Homo sapiens: one gene and its partners. The gene in region 2 interacts genetically with the main gene of each other region. Each region holds a gene or a part of one and is shown on either strand. Other genes may lie near its edges. The genes, in order: MAN2A1, SEC24B, ARL5B, MAN1A1, TRAPPC11 and ARL5A.

The links.
Region 1: changes in SEC24B (region 2) and MAN2A1 together harm fitness more than expected from each alone (negative genetic interaction), as found in Homo sapiens cells (one large-scale study listed by BioGRID).
Region 3: changes in SEC24B (region 2) and ARL5B together harm fitness more than expected from each alone (negative genetic interaction), as found in Homo sapiens cells (one large-scale study listed by BioGRID).
Region 4: changes in SEC24B (region 2) and MAN1A1 together harm fitness more than expected from each alone (negative genetic interaction), as found in Homo sapiens cells (one large-scale study listed by BioGRID).
Region 5: changes in SEC24B (region 2) and TRAPPC11 together harm fitness less than expected from each alone (positive genetic interaction), as found in Homo sapiens cells (one large-scale study listed by BioGRID).
Region 6: changes in SEC24B (region 2) and ARL5A together harm fitness more than expected from each alone (negative genetic interaction), as found in Homo sapiens cells (one large-scale study listed by BioGRID).

What each region holds. Positions count from the first base shown.
Region 1 is NC_000005.10:109,783,501-109,788,362, reverse strand, and holds part of MAN2A1 (alpha-mannosidase 2), read right to left. Parts: intron 3,620-4,862; coding exon 3,437-3,619; intron 1-3,436. UniProt on the Homo sapiens protein: Catalyzes the first committed step in the biosynthesis of complex N-glycans. It controls conversion of high mannose to complex N-glycans; the final hydrolytic step in the N-glycan maturation pathway.
Region 2 is NC_000004.12:109,537,303-109,541,955, forward strand, and holds the end of SEC24B (protein transport protein Sec24B), read left to right. Parts: intron 1-1,190; coding exon 1,191-1,294; intron 1,295-2,258; coding exon 2,259-2,373; 3' UTR 2,374-3,594; downstream 3,595-4,653. UniProt on the Homo sapiens protein: Component of the coat protein complex II (COPII) which promotes the formation of transport vesicles from the endoplasmic reticulum (ER).
Region 3 is NC_000010.11:18,661,470-18,666,331, reverse strand, and holds part of ARL5B (ADP-ribosylation factor-like protein 5B), read right to left. Parts: intron 1-4,862.
Region 4 is NC_000006.12:119,338,875-119,343,736, forward strand, and holds part of MAN1A1 (mannosyl-oligosaccharide 1,2-alpha-mannosidase IA), read right to left. Parts: intron 1-4,862. UniProt on the Homo sapiens protein: Involved in the maturation of Asn-linked oligosaccharides. Progressively trim alpha-1,2-linked mannose residues from Man(9)GlcNAc(2) to produce Man(5)GlcNAc(2).
Region 5 is NC_000004.12:183,665,321-183,670,182, reverse strand, and holds part of TRAPPC11 (trafficking protein particle complex subunit 11), read right to left. Parts: intron 3,927-4,862; coding exon 3,757-3,926; intron 3,124-3,756; coding exon 3,053-3,123; intron 2,181-3,052; coding exon 2,066-2,180; intron 1-2,065. UniProt on the Homo sapiens protein: Involved in endoplasmic reticulum to Golgi apparatus trafficking at a very early stage.
Region 6 is NC_000002.12:151,817,626-151,822,487, forward strand, and holds part of ARL5A (ADP-ribosylation factor-like protein 5A), read right to left. Parts: intron 1-4,862. UniProt on the Homo sapiens protein: Lacks ADP-ribosylation enhancing activity.

The DNA of each region.
Region 1 (4,862 bases), on a different chromosome or scaffold from region 2:
AATTACTAACTATATTCAAATTGTATTTTTATGTCTAAGGAATCAAAAGTCTACTGATTCCAGACCAATTCTGAAATACATCCGCTACTGCTGAAGCATTACTCATGGAAAAAGAACTTGCTTGAAGATTTTTTTTTTTTTTTCCTAATTCAGTTACGTTTCTTGAAGGCTCTACAGACCAGGCATCCATAGGCAAATTCATATTGGAGAAGTACGTAGAAACTCCTCGCTAATCACGTTTTCAATTATATTATTTTTTCCAATACAGAAAGCAACTTTGGATCTATGCCTTGAAGACATTTTTGTTGTCATGCAACAACAACAAGAAAACCTATAAAAGAAGTTAACTTCTTTTTTGCAGAGCATTAATATTTCCTTCAGAGATGTAAGTGATCATGATCAATGTTATTAATTAAATACATTTACATGGCAAATCTATAATTTTAATGCTAAAATCTTATGGATTTGAGTTCATGCCATAATCTAACTAAACTTCCCAACATATTCAAATGTTTTCCTAGACAGCATTAAGTGTTTTCACCATACTAAAACACCATACGAATATGGTTCAGTTATGACAGCAAGACCCTCAATCTAAGTTCCTTTCTATTGTCTACAGGGCTATCTTTATTAGGCAGCCTGAATCTGCAGAGTGAAAGTCATGTTCTCCACCACCTAAAACCAGATGTATTAAAGAGTCCTAATTAAACTGAGTGAAAGCCAGGATCAATGTCTGCATCCTAAAGGCACACATGCAGCCTTCTCATAAGATGAGTACTAAAGACTACAGTATATCACTCCCCAAATGTTTTCTCAGGATGTATAGAGCTGCTTTGCTTAAAACAAAACAAAATGAAACACAGTACATTTGGGAAACATTGGGTAAAACAAAATTCTAAACGTTTCAACATTTCATTAATACAGGATTTTTTTCAGGGCCTCTAATTTCCAAACATACACTTATCCTATTAATACGGAATACGGTTCGGGAAAAATCACTTGGGAATCACAGTTTCTTAGTTTGCTGTTATGGTTGTTGTATTAAGGAGATGTTAGCATGTCTGCCACTATATAGTTTGTCTACATTTTAGGACCCTCACGCTCACCCTGTGTTCCGTTTTCTCCCACCTACCTTAATTACAAGTTAGGAATAATTAGCGGAATTCTAAAACATTTCTCTAAATGACCTCATTACCATTTCTTCTTCCCTTCTACATAAGCCACATTATCTATTAATACTTTTAAGCTGACTATTACAAACATTGTCCCAATCTAATTCATTTTTTTCATGCCATGATTAGAATTAATCTCCAAATATGCCATGATGTATTCTTGCTTTCCAGTTTGTAACTATATACACATTCGATCTATTGTTGACAGCATGCTCTCAGATTCCCCCTACTATGGCAGAGGAGAAAGAAGGGCCTGAATGCCTGATGACACTGCAGAGCTGCCATACCAGAACCAGTTGTCTACAGATTTTTTTCATATGACATAAAAATAAGCAGGACAGGATTTATTCTGTTTCTGGTTGCTATTACTCGCAGCCAAATGCACCCCTAATTCATAAACTTGTTCACAGTGATATTTCTGCCAAATTTGAATGAATAGTAGTCATCAGTCCAAGTTCAAGAGAACACCCAATACTAACTACCTCTTTGTTAATAATTCTCTAACTTATGTTTTGAAATTTCCTCCTTAAAATGTCTGTGCTAATGACTTGGTAATTGTTTATGACTTTTCAATGAACTGTGAAGTACTAACATAGCAAATTTACAAATGCCAAGTACAGTTTGAGACTTACTACCTTTTTTTCTCTAACACGCAATTCTACACGGGGAAGTTTTTATAAGCTAAAAGCAACACAAAACATATGGAGGAACCAATGATAGCTCTTCCAGACAGGTCAAGATACAAAAAATCTTCTGTAGCCAAAGCTCAATGACCTATAAGCAAATCTCTTTCGATATGACAGCCAGAGATAGCAAGTGGGCGGTGTAGGAAAATGACTTTTCTATGTCCTCTTAGGAGCTCTACCCTGGTCTGATTCTAAGCAGTCTCACTTTTAAACTCTCAACAAACCAAGCAGGCCAGGAGCAGGTAAGAAGGAAAAAAGGAGGATCTGACCTTACTTTCAAAAATGGTTTCTGTGGGAGAAATACCATCTTTATCATCTAATGAGGGTTTTCTACTTTAACCCCAGATCAACCTCGACAGGTGGGTGTCATATATATTTGCCATTAAAAAATGGAGAAGATATTCAAGATACTACTTTGAATGCATTTTTTAAGGACTGAAATCAACTAATGAAAACCCAAGAATATCTTTTTCCCCCAATTTCTAGAAAGCCAGTCAAAATATTGTAACTAAAAATTTAATTAACATTTACTACAATTAGTAATATAAGTCGTGAGTCAATTTTTTAACATTGATTTTATGTGTTGTATACGCTTTTCTCATCAAGGAGTAGTACTAAGGATATTCACTTTTAAAATCTATTCTTTAAGAAAATCACAGTATATTTTAAATGACTTTAAAATGTTATCAAAGCACAACACTGCTGATAAACAGTATCAGGAAGAATAGTCTAAACTACAGTAAATAAAATAGTCAAAACTCCTTCCCCAATCTAGGAATGCCCCCTGCACTGATCCTAATGAATGAATGGTCATCCAAAGGCTGGCGTGAGGATAGAGAACTCCCTACTACAAAAGGTAAGATTTCTTCCCCCTTATTAGGAAGCTCTGTTTGCCAAGTCCTCTGTTATCTCAGACCATGCCTATACTCATTGTTTCAAAGTCTTTAATATAGAAATAACTTAGCTTCTACTCCCTTGCCCATCTGAGAGCCCTTCAATGAGTTAAAGATGGCTTTGATACCAACACCCAGGTCATCCTTTCTCATTCCCAATGGCTTATATCATCCACATATGATAAGGTTTATAGGTCTTTTTCCTTCCTGGCTATGCTTCTCAGCTTATTATGTCAATATGCCTCTTAAAAAAAAAAAAAGAAGTATACAAGAACAATTGGATATGAAATAGGATGAGATTAAACTGACATACAATGAAGTAGGAATCTTTATCTCTCTACATTATAACTATGTTTTATTTGATGCCAAGTCCTTGGTCAAGAAGATAACTCCAGTCTCCACACTGTTATTTAGAAGAAAATAGGATCAGCTTTAAACAGTAGTAATAATATTTTACTACCCTATTTGCAGAAATGCATTGCAATAAAAAGTTGGTGCAGCTGGGACTCTGTCAACAGATTTCTTAATATTTGAATATCAGTGCTGTTTTGATACAGTAATACTTATGAGGGATATCATTGTTAATGTGGTTTGATATACACTAACAACTTCACCAAAAGATATAATCTTATTACCCATAATTTTAATGATTTTTTTAAAGATGATTTTTCTATAATTAGATTACCTGGTACCATAATCCACAACCACCCAGTCTTTTGCAGTTCCTGTGATAGCATCATGATGTTGAAACAGTCCCAAATTCCTTCTGGCTTCTGTCAGTGCCGTGTAAAGTGATGATGAGAGAAATTTATTTATCTTGTATTTGTGAGCTTGTCTCAGGGCGAAATAGTAAAGAATTTCAGCAGCCCTAATTGCATAAAAGTCATATTTTTATTTTAAAACAAACACTTTAGCTTATAATCTAAAACTTGTGACATTGATACTTTACAAATTTTTTAATCCATAATTGCAGTACAAGCAATTTATGAAAAAGATATTGGTAATAATAGTTCATATAAAACAACCAATGTATCCCGTATAACACATTTACGTTCTCAATCATCAAAGAATACCATGTCTACACTGGTATCAGGAGTCCTTGTTCTAGATGATCCTGAAAAAGAAGCCAGAACCTGTTGGCAGCAAGACAGGCTTATTTATGAATAGCACAGTGAAAAAAATCTGAAAAATTGGATAAATTTCTCTGTCCTTTCTTCTCTCCAAGAGCAACACACACATAGACCATGAACATCACCAGAATATCATTTACTCTCACATATACACATTAAGAGAAATGAGAAAGAAAGGCATGGTCGGTGAGCGGGACACTCAGAGGAGAGGAGAGGCAGAAAATAATGGCCCAAGAATAGTTCAGGGGAAAGGGTTAGTTTCAGTTTTGAATGATAACATATAACAAATACAGAGAATTTAACAATACAAACTGAAAGATGATAAACAGTATGTCGGCTGGGCATGGTGGCTTATGCCTGTAATCCTAGCATCTTGGGAGACCAAGGCAGGAAAATCACTTGAACCCAGGAGTTCAAGACCAGCCTGGACAACATAGAGAGACTCTATCTTAGCCAGGTGTAGTGACATGCACCTATAGTCCTAACTACTCAGGAGGCTGAGGTGGGAGGATCACTTGAGCCCAAGAGTTTGAGGCCGCAGTGAACTAGGATCACACTACTACACTCCAGCCTGGGCAACAGAGCAAGACTCTGTCTCTTAAAAAAAAAATGTCCTTTGTAGTATATTTTAAAGGAAAAAACCTTCAGTCTAAGAAGAACATGGGGGCTATAATTTCCACCTTTTATGTTTTTTCATCAGAGGATATGGCTCAAGATAAGTTTTTCTTAAAAACTTATTTAAAAGGAGACATGGCTTGATGAAGTAAAAAGTATAAGAAGGTTCTATACACGAAACATGTTTTAAGGACAATGCAGACAGAATCAAGGCAACTTGAAAATGTTATCAAGATTCAGAAAAGAGGAGACACTAGAAATACTTTGTTTGTAAAATGATGCATTTCTCTAAACTGTAGAAATAATCAAAGGAGAGTAAACAATCTCCACTTTTAAATTCTAATCCTTCCAAAAATCATGAAGTAA
Region 2 (4,653 bases):
TATAGTACTTATATAACCTTTTTAGAGGGCCATTTGACAATGTCTGTGAAAATCATGTTCTTTATGACACGGTAAATTATTCTGCAAAGAATGTGTCCCATAGATATATTCATAGAAGTAGGCATATATACACACATGCTTATAGTATTAAATAATAGCTGTGCATTTATTAAAAAGAATACAGTCTGGGGCACTGTGCCATGCACCTGTGGTCCCAGCTACTTGGGAGGCTAGGAGGCTGAGGCAGGAGGATAGCTTGAGCCCAGGAGTTCAAAGCTGTAGTGTACTATGACTGCACTTGTGTACAGCCATTGCACTCCAGTCTGGGCAACCTAGCAAGACCCCATCTCTTAAAAAGAAAAAAAGAAGAAGAATACAGCCTGAAGTGAATAATATGCATGATATGATCCCCATTTGTATTTTCAAAAATGTGTTTGTATACTTAGTAATAATTTAGAAAACATCTGAAAAAATTCACATCAAAATGGAAATGGTTTTTAAAATATTGACCGGAATTACAAACATAATTATTCCAAACTTGTCTATTTAAATTTTGTTATATACTACATTTTTGAATTATTTAATTTACTGTTAATTTGCTATTTAATTTACAGTTGGCTTTGAAAAAGGAAAGTAAATCTTACCTTTTTATGTATATAAAAAATAATAGACTTTTAGGTCCTTTTAAAATAGTCTCGCGTATAGTTTTAAAATATATTTACATATCCACACTGTACTTTAAAATTCTTTGCCTTTAAATTAAAGAAAACATGAAATTCTCCCAGAATGGCTGTTTTTAGAATAGGATATAATCATATATAATTGCTAAGGGAATTTGGAATTTAATGGTATCCCCCTTCATTTGAACATTTCCTCTAGAAGAAACATAAAGCCGCCACACAATACTGGTGACATGCTAATCGTTGTTTATGTTTTATTGACTTACCAAGAAAAATATAGTCAGTTAAAATGTCAGTGACATACTTGTCATTGCACATATTTTATTGACTTATCCAGAAAAATATAAACAGATTTTTCAACAGTTTAAATTTTATTTGTGTAGTTGCTGCTGTTGAGGCTAAGAAATAGAGTGCTGGCAGTTGGGGGTGATGGTAGGAATCATGATTTTGTTCTATTACTGCTGAAGTCTATGAGAAAGGAAAGTTTCCTAATTGTATTTCTTTTACCAGACACATCTTCCAGAGCTAGATACACTTTCATCAGAAAGAGCCAGATCCTTCATAACTTGGCTTAGAGACAGCAGACCATTAAGTCCAATCCTTCACATAGTAAAGTAAGTACTTTTGTAACTTAATTATGAAGTTGTCTTTCCTATGTAGTCTGTGGAATTGCTTGTCTTCAAAGCAAACTTTAAATAGTAGCAAAATATATTCTGATGGTAAAATGTTGTTACTTGATTTAAATCCCCTGTATTCCATTTTCTGACATCTCCATATATTAGTAATTTTTAATTTTCTTTCTTTCTTTATTTAATTTGAGATAGAGTCTCACTCTGTCACTCAGGCTGCAGTGCAGGGGTGCTGCTATCACAGTTCACTGCAGCCTGGACCTCCCATGCTCAAGTAATCCTCCCAACTCAGACTCCCGAGTAGCTGGGACTGCAGGCACTTCCCTCCACACCTGGCTAATTTTTAATTTTTTTTTTTTCTTTTTTTGAGACAAAGTTTCGCTCTTGTCACCCGGGCTGGAGTGCGATGGTGCGATCTCAGCCCACTGCAACCTCTGCGTCCTGGATTCAAGCGATTCGCCTGCCTCAGCCTCCCAAGTAGCTGGGATTACAGGCGCCCACCACCACGCCCAGCTAATTTTTGTATTTTTAGTAGAGACAGGGTTTCACCATGTTGGCCAGGCTGGTCTTGAACTCCTCACCTCAGGTGATCCACCCACCTCGGCCTCTCAAAGTGCTGGGATTACAGGCGTGAGCCACCACGCCCGGCCAATTTTAAAAATTTTTTTTTTTTTTTTAAGCAATGGGGATCTTTCTATCTTGCCCAGGCTGGTCTTAAACTTCTGGGCTCAAGCAGTCCTCCCACCTTAGCCTCTTAAAGTGCTGAGATTACAGGTGTGAGCTGCCAGCCCAGTAATTTTTAAAATATATACTATTTTTAGAAATATGCACTTTTATTTTATTTGTATAAATTTACAGGATACAAGTGTAATTTTATGAGCTAGATTGCAAAGTGGTGAAATCAGGGCTTTTAAATACGTTTAGACAAATGCCCTTTTCTTTCTTCCAGAGATGAGAGTCCTGCCAAAGCAGAATTTTTTCAGCATTTGATTGAAGACCGGACAGAGGCTGCATTTTCTTACTATGAATTTTTGCTTCATGTTCAGCAGCAGATTTGTAAGTGAAGTAGAATAAAATTGAATAAGAAAAAGATCTATAACCTAGGTAAAGCATAATCTGTCAGAGAAGCGCGTGAGAAATTTGAAATGAAGGCATTTGTTAATACAAGATGCAACGCACAGCACTCTGTCTGAGGCTTTGGTAAAAAGTAAAGGGGAAGAAAGAACTTGACAGATCTTTTTCAACTCAAATTAATGGTAACGATGATGCTGTTTCACCAAGTATATTTTGAATTGGTTTCTACACATTTCCAGTAGTATGGCAGTACAGTGCTCTGTTCATTGCAAGCTGGCAAATTTATGTAGCTATGTGGAATGATATGTCATAATGTAAAATTAGATAAATTCTTTTTTCTTATAATTAATATAACATTTCTGGACTTGAACTCTGGCAAGAGATGCCAAAAGGCATTGGTACCGTGTTATTTGTTTATATGAATTACTTTTTAACAAGGAATGTTTCTTATTCATTAAATGAATTCAACATTTTCTCTGTAAAAACAATAGAGTTTCAGTACATGAACTATAGAAAAAAATCTATATATAATGTACATAAATGTTACATTTGTAAAGAAAATGTAAAAATGTAACTATAGCATATGAATTGCTTAAACTGTGCTGCATTGTTGGATGACAACTCTTTTTGTCACAGTTAGAGAATGAGGTTGACTAATGCATATTATGAATTGAGTCCACAAAGGAACACAAAACTCTTTGTAATTCTGTTAAATCTTTTATGTAGATTTATTTATGATCAGCCTACTAATTAAAACTATTTCGCTTGACAGTATGGTTTGGTGATTTTTTGGGGTTTTTGTTTGATTGGTTTTTTGTGGGGATTGGTGGGTTTTTTTACATACAGGATGTATTGAATTTACTAATTGGGGAAGTGCAGTGATACTGCATTTCAGTTAGTAATATATATGAATCAGGCCAGGCGCGGTGGCTCACGCCTGTAATCCCAGCGCTTTGGGAGGCCAAGGTGGGCAGATGACTTGAGGTCAGGTGTTCATGACCTGCCTGACCAACATGATGAAACCCCATCTCTGCTAAAAATACCAAAATTAGCCAGGGGTGCTGGCGGGCACCTGTAATCCCAGCTACTCAGGAGGCTGAAGCAGTAGAATCGCTTGAACCTGGAGGCTGAGGTTGCAGTGAGCTAAGATCACGCCACTGCACTCCAGCCTGGGCAACAGAGTGAGACTCCATCTTAAAAAAAAAAAAAAAGTAATATATATGAATCAATACACTTTCATTAGTCTGTGGACATTACCAAGTACTTATTCTGTTTGTATTCTAAAACAAATGGTGCTACTTTCAAAAATATTCTTAACTAGTAAGTATAATCTTAAATTGTCTTTCTTATTTACATTAGATATTTTTGCCTGCACACTTATAGCAAGAAAATTTTAGTAACACATATCACTATCCCATTTATTTAATTGACTTTAAGATTGCCATCTTGAATTTTGAAAGTGATTTTCTTCTGATCAAGAAACCTCTCATTCACTAACAACTTATTTACTATAAAAAACTCTTAAGGATCCATTAGATTATGGGACATAATTTTATTCTGTACACTATGAAAGTCCCCATCAACAAACTTTGGAAGGAAAAAGACTCTGCCAGGCATGATGGCTCATGCCTATAATCCTAGCACTTTGAGGGACCAAAGCAAGCGGATGGCTTGAGCCCAGAGGTTCGAGACCAGCCTGGGCAACATGGGGGAAACCCTGTCTCTACAAAAATACAAAAAAATTAGCCAGGGATTGTGTGCACCTGTAGTCCCACCTACTCAGGAGGCTAAGGTGGAAGGACATCCTGAGCCGAGGAGGTCAAGGTCGCAATGAGCTCTGACCACACCACCGCACTCAGTCTGGGAGATAGAGTGAAGCCCTGTCTCAAAAAAAAAAAGAAAAAAAAAGAAAAAGGCTTGCTGTGTAGTGGGTTATTTTTACTGTTTTTGTGCTTTCATGGATCTCATTTCTTTGGATAAAAATAAAAGTACTCTCACATTCCCTGCTGGAAATGAGAGGTTAAATGACTCACCCTAAATGACATTACTTACTAATTAGTGTCAATGCTAATAGTAAAAATCCAAATGTTCTCCCTACCCACAACCTACTCCCACCCCACCCCCCACCCACAGGACCATACTTGTCCCTATACCATGCTGCCTCTAGCAAGAGAGAATCTGAACAGTAAGAGAAACTAAGCCAGGCATGGTGGTGCCTTCCTGTAGTCCCACCTATTTGGGAGGCTGAGGCAGAAGAATCACTTGAACCT
Region 3 (4,862 bases), on a different chromosome or scaffold from region 2:
AACACCAGCAAAGTTGGTCACTTATATTGCATCTAGGGGAGAGGAGACCCAAATATTAATCTAGGCAAAAATTATAACCTAAATGTAAGTTTTTTAAAAAGCCTGTTTTACACACCTTTTTAGCTCTGTACCAATCAAGTTAGCTTTTTATCAAAATGTTTTCATATCTGTAAGTTTCCCCACCTATGTATACCAGGATCTGTTTCTTCCTCTCACTTAAAAATCCCATGTAAGCTTAAAATTGAAACGTTTCATGTGTCACAAAGACAAACATATACTCTCAAGTTTTTACACAATTACTCATTGTTTAACATTTTTTCAACCGGCTTCTACAGTTCTTTTGAGCAGATTCTGTTTCTGCTCTTTGTACAATGAAAATCTCTTCAGTTCTTTCCTCCTTTGGGTGCCATGCACTAAATATTCACCTCTTTTAATAAGTAGTTGCTAAAGCTCATCTAATTATTCCGTTAAGTGGTATATATTCTGCAATGTCCTTTGAATACAGAAAACAACCCAGATACCATCTTTCCTAGATTTTCACTTATGCCAAGTATACTAAAGATCCCCTTCTCCAAGGCAGAAGAATGCTTAAAAAGTTACAAGTTAACATCAACAGGGTAAGTAGGGAAGTTTCCACAGAATCACAACACAGTTGATTTGTAGGCAACGATTGGGCACATCTCATATCAGAATCCCGCTCTTCTTGATGACCTCTGGTGAATGTCAACATTCTGGTCATATAATCAACTATCAGCTCATATTCCTACTCTGAAGTTCTAAACTTCATCAGCCAAAAAAAGAGGGACCAAGAAAATTTAAGTTCTTGAGATGTGCAGGTCTTCCAATGACCTACACACTCTAGATACAGCCTATTACAGTGCAGGATAAACAGACACGGTCCTCTGGAAGGGCTATTTTCACTATGGTAGAAGCTGCTTTGTAAAACAAAACAAAACTTGCCTGCTTAGTATAACTCACTATAATTCTCCTTATTTATTTGAGACAGGGTCTTGCTTTGTTGCCCAGGCTGGAGTGCAGGGGCATGATCACTGCAGCCTCGACCTCCCAGGCTCAAGTGATCCTCCTACCTGAACCTCCTGAATAGCTGGGACCACAGGTGCACACCACCAAGCTTGGCTACATGTCCTCTAATGAAGCTAATCTTTAAGTATTACCCTGTTTGTTATCCCTTAAAGTACAAGAACCTTTATCAGTGAGGAACAAACAGACTGCCTGGCACTAAGCATTCTAAATTTTGGTGACAGCTAGAAGCTCCACCTACCAAGCATCTACAGAAAACAACATGCCTGCAGTGGTGAGAAGGAAGCCACTAGTTTAAAGATAAGCAAAACTTGAAGGCAGATAATCCTGTTGGGAGAAAGGAATGGAAGGACAGTACCAGATGGCTCCTTCTTGAAGCAACTCAAATGAAGACCCAGGTCATTTGCAAACAATCCTGCTCCTTGCTTCACTTTTGCACTATGATGCTTCACATAATACTGAAGGCCTGTGATGGTAAAACTCACCAATAATGCACCATTTTGAAAGGTAGGTCCCTAACATGAGGAAATGTTAGGTTAAGACACTACTGTTAGGCCAGGCGTGGTGCCTTACGCCTGTAATCTTAGCACTTTGGGAGGCCGAGGTGGGAGGATCACGAGGTCAGGAGATCAAGACCATCCTGGCTAACACGGTGAAACCCTGTCTCTACAAAAAATACAAAAAAATTAGCCGGGCATGGTGGCGGGTGCCTGTAGTCCCAGCTACTTGGGAGGTTGAAGCAGAAGAATGGCATGAACCCGGAAGACGGAGCTTGCGGTGAGCCGAGATCGGGTCACTGTGCTCCAGCCTGGGCAACAGAGCGAGACTCCATCTCAAAAAAAAAAAAAAAAAAAAAAAAAAGACACTACTGTTACTATCAGTTACAGTAAATCAGAATGTTTTAGGCCAGGTGCAATGACTCACACCTGTAATTCCAACACTTTGGGAGGCCAAGGAGAAGTGATCAGTTAAATCTAGGAGTTTGAGACCAAACTGGGCAATACAGTAATATCCCATCTCTTAAGAAAAAAGTTAGCCAGGTCAGGCATGGTGGCTCACACCTGTAATCCCAGCACTTCAGTAGGCTGAGGTGGGCAGACCACAAGGTCAGGAGTTCAAGACCAACCTGGCTAATTTGGTGAAACTCCGTCTCTACTAAAAATACAAAACTTAGCCGGGCATGGTGGCAGGTGCCTATAGTCCTAGTTACTTGGGAGGCTGAGGCAGGAGAATCACTTGAACCTGGGAGGCAGAGGTGGCAGTGAGCTGAGATTGCACCACTGCACTCCAGCCTGGTGACAGAGCAACACTCCGTCTCAAACAAAACAAAACAAAACAAAAACAAAGAATGGTCTGGAAGACAGGATGCAGATAGATGATAAGTTTAAGTTTAGTGTGTTTGAAACCTGCTTACAGTCCAGAGTTAAGAGCAGAATAAGCTGGGGCCGGGCGCAGTAGCTCACACCTGTAATCCCAGCACTTTGGGAGGCCGAGGTGGGAGGATCACAAGGTCAGGAGATCGAGACCATCCTAGCTAACATGGTGAAACCCCGTCTCTACTAAAAATACAGAAAATCAGCCGGGCGTGGTGGCAGACACCTGTAGTCCCAGCTACTTGGGAGGCTGAGGCAGGAGAATGGCATGAACCCGGGAGGCAGAGCTTGCAGTGAGCCGAGATAACGCCACTGCACTCCAGCCTGGGCGACAGAGAGAGACTCCATCTCAAAAAAAAAAAAAAAAAAAAGAGCAGAATAAGCTAAAGAGAGAAATGTGAGCCACAAGATCTGAGATCTGAGCAGTCAGAAGTAAAGGACAATAATCATACGCAATTGGCAACCAGTGTTCAAAATGATAACATGAAATTCATGGATTGGAAAGAAATGATTAAATTATGAAATTAAGATGTTACTGTTACATGGTTCTGAAAAAGAACTACAATTAAAACTGTATTTCATTTGTTCTTAATTCTGGGTAACACTAGAAATAACTGGCCAGGTGCAGTGGCTCACGCCTGTAATCCCAGCACTTTGGGAGGCGAGTAGATCACCTGAGGTCAGGAGTTCGAGGCCAGCCTAGCCAACATGGTAAAATCCATCTCTACTACAAATACGAAAATTAGCCAGGCATGGTGGCAGGTGCTTGTAATCCCATCTACTCCAGAGGGTGGGGCAGGAGAATTGCTTGAACTTGGGAGGCAAAGGTGGCAGTGAGCTGAGATCACAGGACTACACTCCAGCCTGGGTGACAGAAAATATAACAATAATAAATAAAATTTAAAGACATCACTGGGCCAGGCATAGTGGTTCACGTCTGTAATCCTAGCACTTTGGGAGGCCAAGGCGGGCGGATTACCTGAGGTCAGGAGTTCAAAACCAGCCTGACCAACATGGTGAAACCCCACCTCTACTAAAAATACAAAAATTAGCCGGAGTGGTGGTGTGCGCCTGTAATCCCAACTACTCAGGAGGCTGAGGCAGGAGAATTGCTTGAACCCAGGAGATGGAGGTTGCAGTGGACCGAGATCGCACCACTGCACTCCAGCCTGGGTGACAGAGTGAGACTCCATCTCATTAAAAAAAAAAAACAAACAAACAACAAAAAAAGAAATAACTGATGACAGGTTTCCACAATCATAACACTGAGAGAAAAAGACTATGCCTACAAAAGTTCAAAAGAAATTTAAAAAACAATGCAAAACTTTAGAGGTGAGCTATCAAACACACATAACACATATGTATTTCACAGAACTACATTAACATATAAAATGTTTGCAGAGATAATCAGAATTCCAAATTATTTCCTTGAATAATAACTGTCGAAGTAAACAGGCTTCCAGTTCAAACAATACAAAATTGCAGGAATTAACTTTTACATTGCTTTACTTAGACAACACACGCTTTAGTATACTTATTCACAGAAAGGTATCTAATTTATAAGACGCATGAGACTCTAAAATGCTACAGGAAAAAAAAGGATGAGAATGTGGAAATACTGGAAGAAAGACACGGGAAAGGAGCACATAAAGTAAGATCAGTAGTTCTTAACACTGGCTGCACATTCGATTTACCTTGGCAGTGATGCCCAGGCCTCTTCACCCCAATCTAATTTAGTTGGTGTGAGGTGGCGCTTTGGGCCTGTTATTCTAATATATCTAATTCCACTGGAATAGATAAATATAGTTACAAAAATGGAAAATGCTGAGATTGGTAGTTAATTTTGTTGATGCAGAAAACAAAAATATAGGCTAAGATACATCTGTGGATTAAACCCTTCAGTGAGTCCCATTCCTTGCTCTAGAGAGTTTAATGTCTTAGTCAACACTGGAGGCCCTCTGTGATAAGGTTCTCCTGGTTGTCTTTCCAATCTCATCTCCTCTTCACTCCTCGCAAGCAAACTAACACACAGCCAAGCTCAACTATTTTCAGCTTCCCTAAAAGTACCAAACTAGCTCATTCCTCTCCCTTTTGCATATTAGCTCTTCTGCCTAGAATAACACGTCCCTTCTATTCGGTCTGTCTAGCATGCCACCCAAATTCCTACTCATCATTACATTACGTCCAAGTATACCTTGTGCTGCAGCCAACGTTATATTTTTACACATATCTGTTAAATAATTTACCACACTGCATTTTTTTTCATGTTTGTCTCGTTTATTGATGTTTGAATACTTTGCCAAGAAGTAAGGTATCTTTATTCTTTAATTTTGTATCTCCTATGCTAAACTCTGAAGACTGGCCTATGGCTGTATGAATGAATAAGAATAAAATAACAGAATAATCACTGGTTCTAAATTTTCCAACAGGAAAGTTAGAGGAAGAGAA
Region 4 (4,862 bases), on a different chromosome or scaffold from region 2:
TGCTTTATAAAATCCTAACTCTCGCCTTCAGGACTTTGCCTCCCACAGGAGTCCACGTTCATTGAGCCGGCTTGCCAGATCCATCTCCCCTGGTGGATTTCACTCCTTAGGCCTCCAAGCTCTGCCATCTTCTCTATCTTCCTCCTTTCAAAATTTCCTTGTTCTATCTATACAACTCACAAGGAAGAAATGCAAATGATCAACACAGGAGAAAGTGTTGATCAAAGAAAAGCAAACTGAAAATGCCATATACTGCTTCATCACTTATGAAATTCACAAAGAATCAACAGACTCCATTCATTATATGACACATGGGAGTATAAATGGTTTCTGGAAAGTTATCCCTCAAAATGTACTATCTGTTGGCCAATTTATTTCCCCTCTTAAGAATTTAAGAGAAAATCCCACTTACCAGGGTGTGTGCAATAAAAAGTGAGACACAAATTTACTGGACAAAGCTGTCTGTCTCAGCATTTTTAATAAAAACAAAAAAGTGGAAATAATCTAAATGTTCAGGTCCAAGGGACTGGTTAAATAAAGTATCATGTTTTGACATGGATATACTGTGCCAACATAAAATGACACTTGCAAAGAAAATGAAAAACAAAAAGTATATATAGTGTGGTTATAACCCGGCGTCGGGGGGTGGGAACGAACTTACATATTGGGGTTAGGGAGGAGCATCATTGACACTACTTAGTGACTGATAAAACTATGAAGGATTTGTTTTTTTTTTTCTACTCTAGTGTGCTTTCAAATTTTTCTTTCCCAAGCAGACATGAGTTTATAAAGCGAAATAAGACAATGGAAGATACTTGCTTCAACAAACCTATTCTATCCTTTGATAAGACAAATCTCAAAGTATAATATTAATAATTCTGCTGAGCAACTTTATCCATCTATTTCTAAAGCAAGCCTTTAAGAATCAATAAATGGACACGCATGGTGGCTCATGCCTATAATCCCAGCACTTTGGGAGGCCAAGGTGGGTGGATCACTTGAGATCAGGAATTTGAGACTAGCCTGGCCAATGTGGGGAAACCTTGCCTCTACCAAAAATACAAAAATTAGCCAAGCATGGTGGCAGGTGTCTGTAATCCCAGCTACTCAGGAGGCTGAGGCAGGAGAATCGCCTGAACCTAGGAGGCGGAGGTTGCAGCAAGACAAGATTGCACCACTGCACTCCAGCCTTGGCAACAGAGCAAGACTCCATCTCAAAAACAAAAACAAAACAAAAACAGTAAAAAGGAAACACTGGTGGTGAATTTCTGGCAGCTGGGAATGAGATTTTGAGACTGGGTAGATACCCCTGAGCTTCCCTAATCATTCCACAGGTCTGTTCTCTTGTCTTATGCCCCGACAGAGAGAGATACAGTGAGGAAACACACTCCCCTTTTAGTACATAGCTCCAGCATGTATTCCCGTGAAAGAGGAACTAGGGACAGACAATCATGACCTAAACATCAGCTCAGGAAGCTGGACATGCCACCCCCAGTGTAGGCTAGGATCCCTGGCCTCCTGTCCTATTTCTGAGATCATCCTGTCACTTAGAAGAATTGAGTGTTCTGAAGGGACCTTGAGAAGACCATTTAATGAGGAAGGATTTGGCAGAAATGGAGACACTAGCAATAGCTTGTAGTCTATGGATGGCTTGAGTTCACGTCTTGGCCATAGTCATTCACAGGCCTTCGGACACCAATTACTGCCACCCCCTTTCTCATAAACTCCTAGCACAGACAAACAGGCACCAGCAACAAAGGTTGTTTCAGAGGGTAGCAATGCTGTGTTATTAAACCACCCTTTCAGAACTTGGTGTCCTTCATCAGGTTTTTATCCCCTCATCTCCATGCCCTCTCTCATACTAAGTTGCTAATACTAAACACTCCCACACAAGACAGGACGATCTAATTAGTGACCCACATAAAAACATGAACAATGCAAATGAAAAGTTAATATAATATGTTCTGAGTGTCACTTGAATGAACGATGTAGAGCAAGAGTGATGAGAAAGCAGCAGAGCAAATCAGGAACTGGGCTTTTGATAAACTTAAGAGCCAGGGAGATGAGCAGACTGAGAAACACGAGCGAGAAGGAGTCATTCTAGTCACAAAAGTCAAGTAAACAGGAAGGATACGTGTACTTTTCAATTTTATTATCTCTGTTCTGGATTATCTGCAGGACTGCTCAGCTCTAAAGTACCTAAAGCAACTACCAGAGTATTCATGACAGAAATGAGGGCTGTGACTTTTAAATGCTCTTAAGCCTTAATCTCATTTGGTTTTTTTTCAAGTACCTAATGATCACAGAAGTCTTTATCAAAACTCAGTGGGGGCGGGGCACTGCTGCCACATTCTCCGGAGCAAAGGAATTAGCCAGTATTGCTTTCTTAGGCAATCCCCTACCCAGCAAAGACGTCCCACCTCCCTCTAGGATGGTCTCAGTGGGGCTTCTGGCAGTTGGCCTGCCATTTAGGGCTGAGGAGGAGGGAGGGCCTGGTCAGCCAGTCACCAAAGCACACGTTCTCATTAGAGTCAAGATTATCCCAGGTGGAGTGGGGCCTGGTTCTCAGTACTTCTCAACACCTAAGAAGCAATTCTCAGCTATTGTTTGTACACTGGGGGAATCTCAGGAAGTCACAGCTCACAGGCCTTATTTCTCATGTGTAAAATGAGTAGTGGGTCTGGAATCCTAATAAATCTAAATTCAATGTGAAGGTCTCAAAAAGACCAAACTCTCTGAGCTACAAAATAAAACTGATTTATGCTAACTTTGACTACTAAGTGATGGACTGAGCTCTGATTATAGAATTTATCATAATTATATAATTTTTGCCAAGCCTAAAATAATAATTCTCACTTCTTAAAAACATTCCTCCAAGATGAAACAGATTGAAATTCACTTTACTCGATCTCTCTCTCTATTTAGAAGAATAACTTCAATACTTAAGATAGATAACTCAGCCAAGGCATGGTGGCTCACACCTGTAATCCCAACACTTTGGGGTGCCGAGGTGGGAGGACTGCTTCAGCTCAGGACTTTGAAACCAGCCCGGGAAATATAGTGAGACCCGATCTGCATTGTGTAAATAAAAAAATTATTTATTAGAAAAAAGAGAAATTAAGATAACTCGACTGTGACTACTCTGAAAGATGGTATCTGCGGGAATAGGCATATTTGACTATGAGAAAGAGACAAATTAATTCTTTAACATATATTCTGAAGAAGCTGAAGATGTATATGCAGTAAGTATATCATTCTAAAGATACTTAAGTTTTTTTGGAATTTGGTAAAAATCAAAGAAAATCAGAGTTGACCGTAGCAAAATAAAATTATAGGTATGGAAGATCTTTTTGATGAACTGGAAATGTATCCCTTTAAGCACTAAAACTCAATTTTAACTATTTTTGATACCCTTTTGAAACTTCATTATCCACTTTCCTGAGTTATTAAACAGCATATGGATCAATGCAATCTTGGCTTGATGGCTTTAGGTGGTGACCAGTAACAGCAATAATCACAAGCAGCATTTGTTGTGTGCCCACTTCATGTCTGATACCATTCTAAGTGCTTTACTATCACATTTAAGCCTCAGGATCCAACAAAGTGGGTACTATTAACCTCATTTTACAAATGAGGAAACTAAAGTTCTGAGAGATTAAGTAATTTGCAGACGGTCACAAAGCAAGAGAATGGTAGAGGCCAGATTCAGACCCACGTTATCTGAGTCCAGATCCACCCTTCTAACCACTACATTGCTTCAAATGGATGGATCAGAGACAGGTAAGTGCATCCCAAAAGAGAATCGCCAGAACCTACTTGGGTGGAGAGAATTGCCCATAGATTGGTGTGATTTTTACATGTCTACTTTTAAAACAATCATCCTTTAGGTTAGCTGTCATTCTTCTATTATCCATGGTGCAATATCAGAAGAGCACACACATTTATAATTTTAAAGCAGCCCTTCTAGTCATCACATGTCCCTTCTCTGGGTGATCCCCTTTCACCCTTTGTATATACAGTAACTCACTCTCTTCTTCTCTCCCTTCCTTCTTCTTCCCCACTTTTCCTCATAAAGAATGTTTAACTGAATGATTACAAATGCCTGTGCTTCTTGGAGAGATCTTTATAAAGAAAACAAGATGTCCTATCAAGCTTTCCCCGGGTGTCTTTACAAAGAAGAAGATTTCTAAACCATGCCACTGGTAAGATTTTTAAAAATTACTATAATTGACTTAAAAACTACTTTGATCCATCGTTGGCTGAAAAAAAAAAAAAGAAAAACCACCAACTTAGTATAAGGTCAAATTTATAATAATGCAGAATTGTATGTTTTCTGTACTCTCTATTAGGGTCTGCAAATAGTAAGCACGGATAATTTATACAATTCTTTGGGGTTTTATTTAGGAGACAAACCATGTGGGAGACAATGCGCAACACTCACAGAAGACTGGGGCTTCCCTCTGCAACTCAACTCTGCCACTAGCTGGTGATGTGATTTCCAGAATGATCTTTGTGTCTTGGTTGCCTCTACTGTAAAATGAATGAGCTACCTCTCAGATCTCATTCAGATGCAATACCTTACGACTCGGAGCATACACTTAGTTTTAAAATCTGAGATTTAAAGTTATCATGGCATAATTTGCAGAGTTTGTGTAAAGGGCCTTTTAACAGATTGAGAGGTTGGGGGTGGGGATAAGATATAGTTCAATCACTGAACACCAAGCAAGGAACTAGGCTAAGAATACTGAGGGAAAAGTCAAGACTTATTTCCTCAAAGAGGGAATCTCTTCCCTAAACTACCAAACAGGTATCTTGTTTATTATTTTCGTCTACTTGGCGGGGAGGTTGTTTTGCCACTCGTT
Region 5 (4,862 bases), about 74 Mb from region 2:
GGCTCTGAAAGCACAGGAGTAAGTGTGCCATCAGTAGCTCCACTACTTCCCTCCCAGATCAATGAGATGAAGATGTCCTGATATTCAGCTTTACTCTCTCTCTCTCTGAAGATAAAATATAAATCTGAAGAAAGGGTCTATGAGTTTCCTCATCTCCAATGGACTATCTTATGCACTCCCCATCTTGTATCCACATGCTGGAGGCTATGGACCCAGGGCACTTGTTTTTACATCAGTTATTTTGACAATGTACTCCTTATTGAAATGTTTCATCATCCACAACAAAACTACAAGTGGTTAAGGGCAGAGGCCCATCCTCTGTTTCTCTTGAATCCATGACCGCCTAAATTTGAAAGCTGTGGTGGGCAGGATCACTGATGGTTAAGGTAGGGTTCTCAAGCTCAGCACTGCTGACATTTCGGCCAGGTAATTCCTTGTTGTGCAGGGCTGTCCTGTACGCTGTAGAGTGTGTGGCAACATCCCTGGCCTCTACCCACTGGAAGCCAATACAGCAACCCCCTCAGTTATGGCAATCATAAAAGTCTCCAGGCATTGCCAAATAGTCTCTGGAAGGTAATGCTGCTCAGTGAAGAGTCATTACAGCAGGGTATAGCACAGAGGACAACAGCTTTCTAATGAAGGCTTCGTTGAAGCCTTAAATGTTGAGTAAGAGAGAGCCCAGAAAAGGAGAGCTGGCAGGTGGGCATGACTATGAAAGCATCTGACAAGGAACAGCACTGTGAATAGGAAAGCACTGAAGTGCAGAGTCAATGGTGAGCTGTCCAGGCCTGGAGAGCTGAGGCCAGGTGTGATGCTGGGATGAGCCTCAGTGGAAAGAAAAGCTGCCTGAGTGTGCTACCAGCTGCCCCTCTCTTCTCTCTGTTCCCTATTGCTCATATGTCTGCATTTAAGGAATAAAACTCATTTATTCTTTTCCTCTGAATTCTAAGCAATTATCTCAATGTTACCCTGGGCACCATGGACTTGATTTTCTGTGGTGTGAATTCTACTGTTTACTGCTTCCAGTGTAAAGATTTATTTTGCTAATTGCATTTAAGTTTCTTTGCAATTCATCTTTTCATTTGATCCTATTCCTCTGCATGTTCTCTGCTAAATGTATGCTTCTCTTTCTTAGAAGCCTGGTCTTTTATATACCAGTGAGAAGGCCAGGTAACCTCCTGCAGCGGATCATTTTCAGAGGTTTGCTTCTGAGAAAGAAACAAATGCAAGAGAAGCAATACTCAAAAATAAATAAAACTGTTCATGAGTTAACGAAGGACACTTATGCAGAATGAAAAGGAAAACCATTTTACAGTCAAAATCAATGAAAATATTCATATCTAAATACATCCTAGCATAAAATGTACTACTACAAAACTTCTGTGTGACAATAAATGCTACAAAACAATGAATAATGACCACATGATTTTTGAGGTAATGTTGTGTCTCCAGGTAATCTGCCCTTTATACACAAAGGCTTTATAAAAATATTTAAGATATGATAGGGCTCACACCTTCCTAAGAAATTAGTGACATAGATACATCGACAGCTCAAGAATGAAGCAAAAACAGGCCAGAGTGGAATGGAGACACTCTCACAAAAAAGGACATACATGTCACTCAAGGACATGGGTAATTACTGGAAAGTATAATGGAGAAACATATAAACTTTGTTTCTTTAAATAAAGTTGACCTAGATGCACATATGGAAGCATGTTAATGAGGTAATGTTAAGTGGAAGATCACTGTGTATCATATGAGCACATTTATGTTTTTGTGTTTGTGTGTGTGGTATGGATACTATAAAGAAATACATATATTTGTTCTTATACAAAAAGACTTTTTTTGGAAGGAAACTTGAGCAACTGTTGATACTGGTTACCTCAGGGAATTGGAGAGGGTTAAGAATTTAACAAAAAAGACTTTTATTTTTACCCCATAGCCTCTGTATCATATGAATGTTTTTCATGAACATGATTTTTTAAAAAAATAAATGGGTCTAAGCTACCAATTTCTCAATTCTTAATAATCTAAAAAAACAAAACTTTAAAAGACCTCTACTTACCTTATAATATAACCCACAAGGTGGTCAGTGTGCGGCAGTACAAACAAAGACTTTCCTGAGAGTTCACATGCATTGCATAAAGCTGCAGCCCTTTCTGAAGCAATGACATCTTCTCCTGTTGATAATCCCCATCAAGATGAATGAGAAATAAAATAACTAATGTAGCTTCCCAAATAAATATTTCCCCAAGTCTGAAAAAATAGAATTAGGAATAAAAACCCAAACAGCTTTTCATCACACCAACAGGACTCCTGGGCTCCTTGAGAGCTCTGTGTGGTTCTTAGAGGTTACACAGTATATGCCTTTTAGGAAAACACTGTGGAATTTTCTACTGAGCCAGGATAGGTGGCCAAGTAATGCCAACAGATATACCACATAACTATTTCAAAAAACATAACTAAAACTGGAAGCAATAATTCATGAAAGAAGTCTCCAAAACCATTTTGGATGCTATAAGTTTCAACACAGAAACAAAAATATATTTTGGTCTACAAAAGTCTGGGAAAGTGGAAATAAGAATCTGAAACTAAGACATTTTCCAAGAGAAAACTACAAATCCTATAGCCTTTTTCTTTGCCCTACAGAAAATTAATGAAAAAATTTCATATAAGGAATACAGCTTCAAATAGATCTTAGATAAGTAAATTATATTCTTTTTTGGAAAGCTTTGGAAGTCAAAAAAAATTATACTCTTGTAAAAAAATTCAAGCGAATTGTTTTGTGAATTGAACATGCCTTCCTATATCCCCTACATAAGAAGACAAGTGGAACAGGGGAACTAGGGGAACTTGAGATTTGCATTCTTCACTATCTTTAATTTTTTACAATAAGCATTTGTTCATGTATCATTGGTGCTTTTTAAAGTTAACATACTATCAGCCCCATAACTGAATGCATAAAAGATTTAAACATCCAAAAAACCCCTATCTCCCTTTAATAAGAATTGGAGGTATAAAACAATTAATTCATTAATTAGACTTCTGATACCTGGGGGCAAAGGGGTTTTCTTCTGAATCAGAACCACTGCAACTTTTGTGTTTCTTCCTTGTAAACTTTGCCTGCAATGAAAAAGCAAGAATAAAATTAATTATTTTAACTTAAAAAATGTATTCATGACTTCACATAAAATACAACCTTGGTCATTCAACCGAAGATAAATTTCAACTAAAAAAACCAAGATCAGAAGAAATCTTTTCCTGCACACAAAGCACATATATGTCACAATGATTTAAATTCTAAAAGTATGATCTCACATCTTCTAATCTTAAAAATCTTCCTTAAAAGCAAAAGATTAATGTATACTTTTACGTAAAAGTTATAATGCAACTTACTTCTTTATGGTGATACACTGCAGAGTAGTCATCCAAAAGAATTAATTATTTGAAACTTAAACAGTGATAAAGCAAAGCGTTTTAAGAGACTAAACAGTAAATTACTATGTCTCCAAAAAAGATAATACAAGAAAAACATTTGGAAATTCAGACCAATTAGTCTTCTAAATTTCTTCACGTACCCAGCATTATATACAGTCAATAATTATGCTACCTGTGAGGAAGTGAACAAGATTCACTGGAGGTCAATCCGCAAAGTGACCACTGCAGTCTGAACGGTACTCCATTGCCTTCAAGGAATGTTAGTGAATAACACACATGTGCAAACTGACATAGCTGCCCTGACACAGAAGATCATACCTGACTATTTCCACTCTGGTGGCGCACTCAGACTGCTTTTCTTTCCACTGAGGCTCATCCCAGTCCAGTTCATAGAACACAACCACCAGGGCTGGCACCAGATTCAGATGCTTATTCATCCAGCCAGTCTTTAAGATCCCTTTAGGAATGTACCACTCATATGAAGTTCTCTGCAAACATTGGCAGAAATTGAAAAGTTACCTGACAGGAGCAGAAACCACCTGTTACTGAGTGCCAAGCACTTTATGTGCATTGATCTCATTCAATATACACACCTCCCATTTTTGATTAGGAAACTCAGGCTTACAGATTCAGTAAGAACTAGTAAGTGTTGAAGGTGGAATCTCAACCCTGGAGAAGCTATACTTCCCATTTAAAGAATGACTGAAGCCAAAGAGTTTCTATCAGCCCCATAACTGAATGCATAAAACGATGATGCATGTCTAATGATGTCAAGGGTCTCAAATACTTTGCTAAAGAAAAAAAAAAAAAAAAAAGTAGCCCATTTCCAGGTAAATTCTACTTATATTCTTCACCATTCCAGCTTCTGTTCTTGTAAAACTGCTCAAATAAAATATTATCTAAAATCCAATAGGCTTTGTTTATTTCAAAGACATATTGCTGTGATGCATTTCACCTCACTTGTAGATGAAGTACAAAGCAGAGAACAATTCTTAAACAGAAGCTTCACAGCAGCCACTTGAGTCTGGGCACTGAGTGCCACAGAGTGGGAAGAGGATGCTGTAGATTTGAGTGTTAGCCCTGAGGGATGCAGTTGAAACCTCACATTCCTTCCAAATCAGCTGTGCTGGCTCAGACTACTCCACTTCATGGTGATCCAATGTCTACCTCCAGCAAGGAAAGATGAGGTCAATAAGGAAGTCTGACACAAAATAACATGGGGACTCAGCCAAAAGCTGGGAATAGAGAAATGAAAAGCAGCTTGAATTCGAGCATTAAGAGAAAAGAGGGCTTGTGCTGGGCTCCCTGCCTTCTTGACACAAACATGACACTAAAGAAAAATAATCATGTAGGCCTGGCACGGTGGCTCACGCCTGTAATCCCAGCACTTTGGGAGGCCAAGGTGGGCAGATCACGAGGTCAGG
Region 6 (4,862 bases), on a different chromosome or scaffold from region 2:
GAGCAGGCAGCTTAGAACCACTAGGGTCCTTAAGTGACATGACCACCTGCCCCTTTTATGAGTTATTAAGAATAATTTAAAGACCTAGGGCCCAGGCCAGGTGTGGTGGCTCATGCCTATAATCCCAGCACTTTGGGAGGCTGAGGCCGTCGGGTGGATCACCTGAGGTCAGGAGTTCAAGACCAACATGACCAACATGGTAAAACTCCATCTCTACTAAAAATACAAAATTAGCTGGGCGTGGTGGCACATACCTGCAATCCCAGCTACTTGGGAGGCTGAGGCAGAAAAATCGCTTGAACCCAGGAGGCGGAGAGTTGCAGTGAGCCAAGATCATGCCATTACACTCCAGCCTGGGCAACAAGAGCGAAACCCCGTCTGTGGTCTTTAGTCTCCCAGATCCACAAACAATTCTGCTACTATCCCAGAATAGACAGGACTCAGAGAGAGCAATTCATGGAAATGACTAAGACATAAATAAGAACAGCAAATGAGTAACATACAATAAGATCAAATGTTGAAAAATGAATGACAAGTAACAAGTCTATCCCTGAGGATATGTTACATGATGGCTGAATTAAAATCAGATGATTACTTGGGGAGCATGGAATCCCAACCACAAGGAGTGTTACAGGCTGCAATGACTGATGTGAATCCTTTCTTTTTTTTTGAGACAGGGTCTCACTCTTGCTGCCCAGGCTGGATTGCAGTATCACAATCACGGCTCACTGTTGCCTCAACCTCCCAGGCTCAAGTGATCCACCCACCTCACCCTCCTGAGTAGCTGAGACCACAGGTGTGCACCACCACGCCTGGATATTTTGTTTCTTTTGTAGAGATGGGATGTCCCTGTGTTTCCCAGGCCGGTCTCAAACTCCTGGGCTCAAGCAATCCTCCCGCCTCAGCCTCAAAAAGTGCTAGGATTACAGGTGCAAGCCACTGTACCTGGTCTGAATTCATCTTTAGAGCAAGGCCATGCCTGCATGAGGGCCAGGTAATCGAGTCCTTGGGACAAGGTACCTTTGCACCTAGAAAGTTTTTAAATAGCATGGCAATTCTGCCTAACTCCATTTTTCTATGTCCCAAAATTAAGCATTCCTTTTTTGATGATGTAACTCCTCTTCAGTTTTATTAATACACGCACTCATAAACATTTTTAACACAACTAGAATTCATTATCAGGCTATACTCTGATCTCTGACTTGGATAAGAGTTTTTAGCTTCCCAGGAGAATACTGATTTTTAATCACAGCATTCTCAAAATGTCAGCTTATTTTTAAGTTACGGGAATATATCCCGCCCCCGCCTCCACCCCATTCCCCCAATGTATTAGCTACGGGGCAGAATTTAGATGGGCTTCTCAATACTTGGGAAGAAAATACAATTACTCTGACCAATGAAATACCAGAGAAAATACAACTACTTTGACCCTAAAAACAGTACAAAATTAGCAGGAAAAGTCCAAAAGGAAACAAAAACATAGGCAAGAATCTATAATATATAACAATAAAGAATGACTAAAAAATGTGTATATGTATAAATAATGTACACAGAGACAACGAAGTAAAAAACAGTACTCTCTCAGTTTCTTACAAGGGCCGTAATCAGCTAAGGAGGTTAAACACTTATTCCAACCATGTTACCATTTTTTCAAAATAGTTTGCTACGGTTCTTTTATAATTGCTTTCAGAGCCTGAGGTACACCATTTTGAATATTGCCACCTAATGGTGGCAAATCTTTTAAACTCTGAAGATGAACTTGACTTTAAAGTGGGAGATGAGCCACCTCGTATCATCTTGGTCATAAGGTAAAAGGTATCTAAAATGAGTGCCATTTTTTTTTTGTTAAGTGAAATATGAAGAATTATTTAAAAATTTGTTTCCAAAGAACTTCTGAGTTTCAAAGAATAGATTGAATAATAGTAGGACATACCAGTGGAAAAACTATATAGCCTCCTAAAATGATAGCTTTAAAGTAAAACCTCATCTGGCTTTAGTACAGGTATTTTTTTAAGTGGTCTCCTTACTTCAGCCATGTCCTTAGGACTTGGTTACTATGTCCTAATTCCAAACCTGGTGCTTTTCTAACAGTTCTGTTAGGAAAAACTAGCTAGGCAAAAACTACTGAAAAAAAAAAAAAGACTCTTAGGCCAGGCATGGTGGCTCACACCTGTAATCCCAGCACTTTGGGAGGCCGAGGCAGGTGGATCACAAAGTCAGGAGTTCAAGACCAGCCTGGCCAAGATGGTGAAACCCCATCTCTACTAAAAATACAAAAAAATTAGCCTGGCATGGTGGCGTGAGCCTATAGTCCCAGCTACTTGGGAGGCTAAGGTAGACGAATTGCTTGAACCTGGGAGGCAGAGGTAAAATTCTTTATCATACCTGGCCACTAGCTGAACATGATCACCAAGGTAAAACTGCTGTGAACAAAACCATGTGCTATAACACACAGACAAGTCTAAGATAAAGCAGATGGCAGAAATTACTCATTCCAGGATTTCATCTTATAACACAACTTAGTTGCCTACTGAGGAAAGGAAAAGGTTAACAGTTTCAAGATGCATCATCTTTTACAACCACTGTATGGAATGAACTAGAGTATCAATAAGCTGAAATTAGATAACCTATCCTGTGGTGGATTAGGATTTAAACTGCTTTAAATCTTTCTTTAACAGTGCCTAGAAATAAAGAAGGCACACTGGAGAGAGAAGGTATAGTAGATGATACAGGGTAGGAATCCACATGTCTGGGCCAGGCACAGTGGCTCACGCCTGTAATCCCAGCACTTTGGGGGGCTGAGGCGGGTGGATCACTTGAGGTCAGGAGTCCAAAACCAGCTTGGCCAACATGGCGAAACCCCGTCTCTACTAAAAATTCAAAAATTAGCTGGGTGTGGTGGCACACACTTGTGGTCCCAGCTACTTGGGAGGCTGAGGCATGAGAATCAGTTGAACCTGGGAGTCAGAGGTTGCAGTGAGCCAAGATTGTGTCACTGCACTCCAGCCTGGGCGACAGAGTGAGATCCTGTCTCCAAAAAAAAAAAAAAAAAAAAAAAAACAGAATCCATATGTCTGGCATGGTGGAAAATGTTAATAGAGAAAAGCGTGTCGGAGACAGTGATAAGAAAGAAATGAAGTGGCTAGCCATGGAATTTGGGCCGGGAAAGAAATCCAGTCCTGCCCTACAAGGTTAAGAATGTCCGGAAGTCCTAGCAGGTGAAAGGTTAGGTTATTGTTAGGGTAGAAGGAAAGATGAAAGGTAAAATGGCTATGAACAAGAGGAGAGAAATTAGCCAAGGTCTGAAGCTTTGGAGGACCCATAACCTTCTGTCTGCACCTGAAAGTGAATAACTAAATCCAGGTAAGATCATTAGATAAACATGATGAAAAAGGATGAGTGTGACAAAGCTAGCTAAGCCTTAGCCCAAATCTTCCCCTAACTCTTCTTGACCTACGTACTAAAACTTAGAAAAGCTGCTCTACTCAGTCTCTAGAACATGTCATAAACTTTCCAATCATTTAACTTTGCTCATGCCATTCTCCACACTACAATCTTACTCTTCTGCCTACCTATTTTACAAATTCAATGAATTCCTATATACTTACAAATGCATAAATATGCAACCATGCCCCCAAACTCTTAAGACCTAAGCAGATTTCTAAAGTCAATCAAGGGAAACCAAACTAATATATTTGAACATATCATATTCTTACCAAATGGTTAAAATACTTCAAAAACAAAAAGGAGGAAAGAAACTCCAATCAAACATAAGCAGAACCTGGAAAATATCCAAAAAAACCACATGTAGTCATGTGGTCTGAGATCTCTGGAGGGCCATTCCAATGAAGAATCCATGATCCAGAGGATCTTTACCTCCTTACTCCACCCAAACACCTACAAACTACATTCATTACAAAGTTCTAGTTGCTTCCTCCCAAGACGTAGCTCTATTTGAGTTTTTTTGTATTTTCACAATAAAGCACCAATGACTTTTTTGAGACGCAGTCTCGCTGTTGCCCAGGCTAGAGTGCAGTGGTGTGAGCTTGGCTCAATGAAACCTCTACCTCCCAGGTTCAAACGATTCTCCTCCTGCCTCAGCCTCTCAAGCAGCTGGGACTACAGGCAGGCACTACCATGCCCGGCTTTCTTTTTTTTTTTTTCTTTTTTTTTTTTTTTTTTGAGACGGAGTCTCGCCGTATGCCCAGCTAATTTTTTAATTTATTTATATTTATTTATTTAGAGATGGAGTCTCGCCCTGTCGCCCAGGCTGGAGTGCAATGGCATGATCTCGGCTCACTGCAACCTCTGCCTCCCAGGTTCAAGGGATTCTCCTGCCTCAGCCTCCCGAGTAGCTGGAACTACAGGTGCGCACCACCACGCCCAGCTAATTTTTGTATTTTTAGTAGAGACAGGATTTCACCATATTGGCCAGGCTGGTCTTGAACTCCTGACCTCATGATCCACCTGCCTCGGCCTGCCAAAGTGCTGGGATTACAGGTGTGAACCACCTGCACGTGAATCATCAGAAGTTTACTGTGCCTGGCCTAATTTTTGTATTTTTAGTAGAGATAGGGGTTTTGCCATGTTGGCCAAGCTGGTCTTGAACTCCTGACCTCAGGTGATCCATCTGCCTTGGCCTCCCAAAGTGCTGGGATTACAGGCATGAGCCACTGCGTCCCGGCCACCAATGACCATTTTTAATAGCTTCCTAAATCTAAGACATAGCATGTGGGTCACAATGAGAACTATAAAATTAAGACCAAACTGTGCAATGGGCTCAAAGACAAACGTGTCATCTCAATAATAGGGTCAGATTAGTCACAAAGTTTTTAATAGTAGATCAATTTCCTCTGAACATC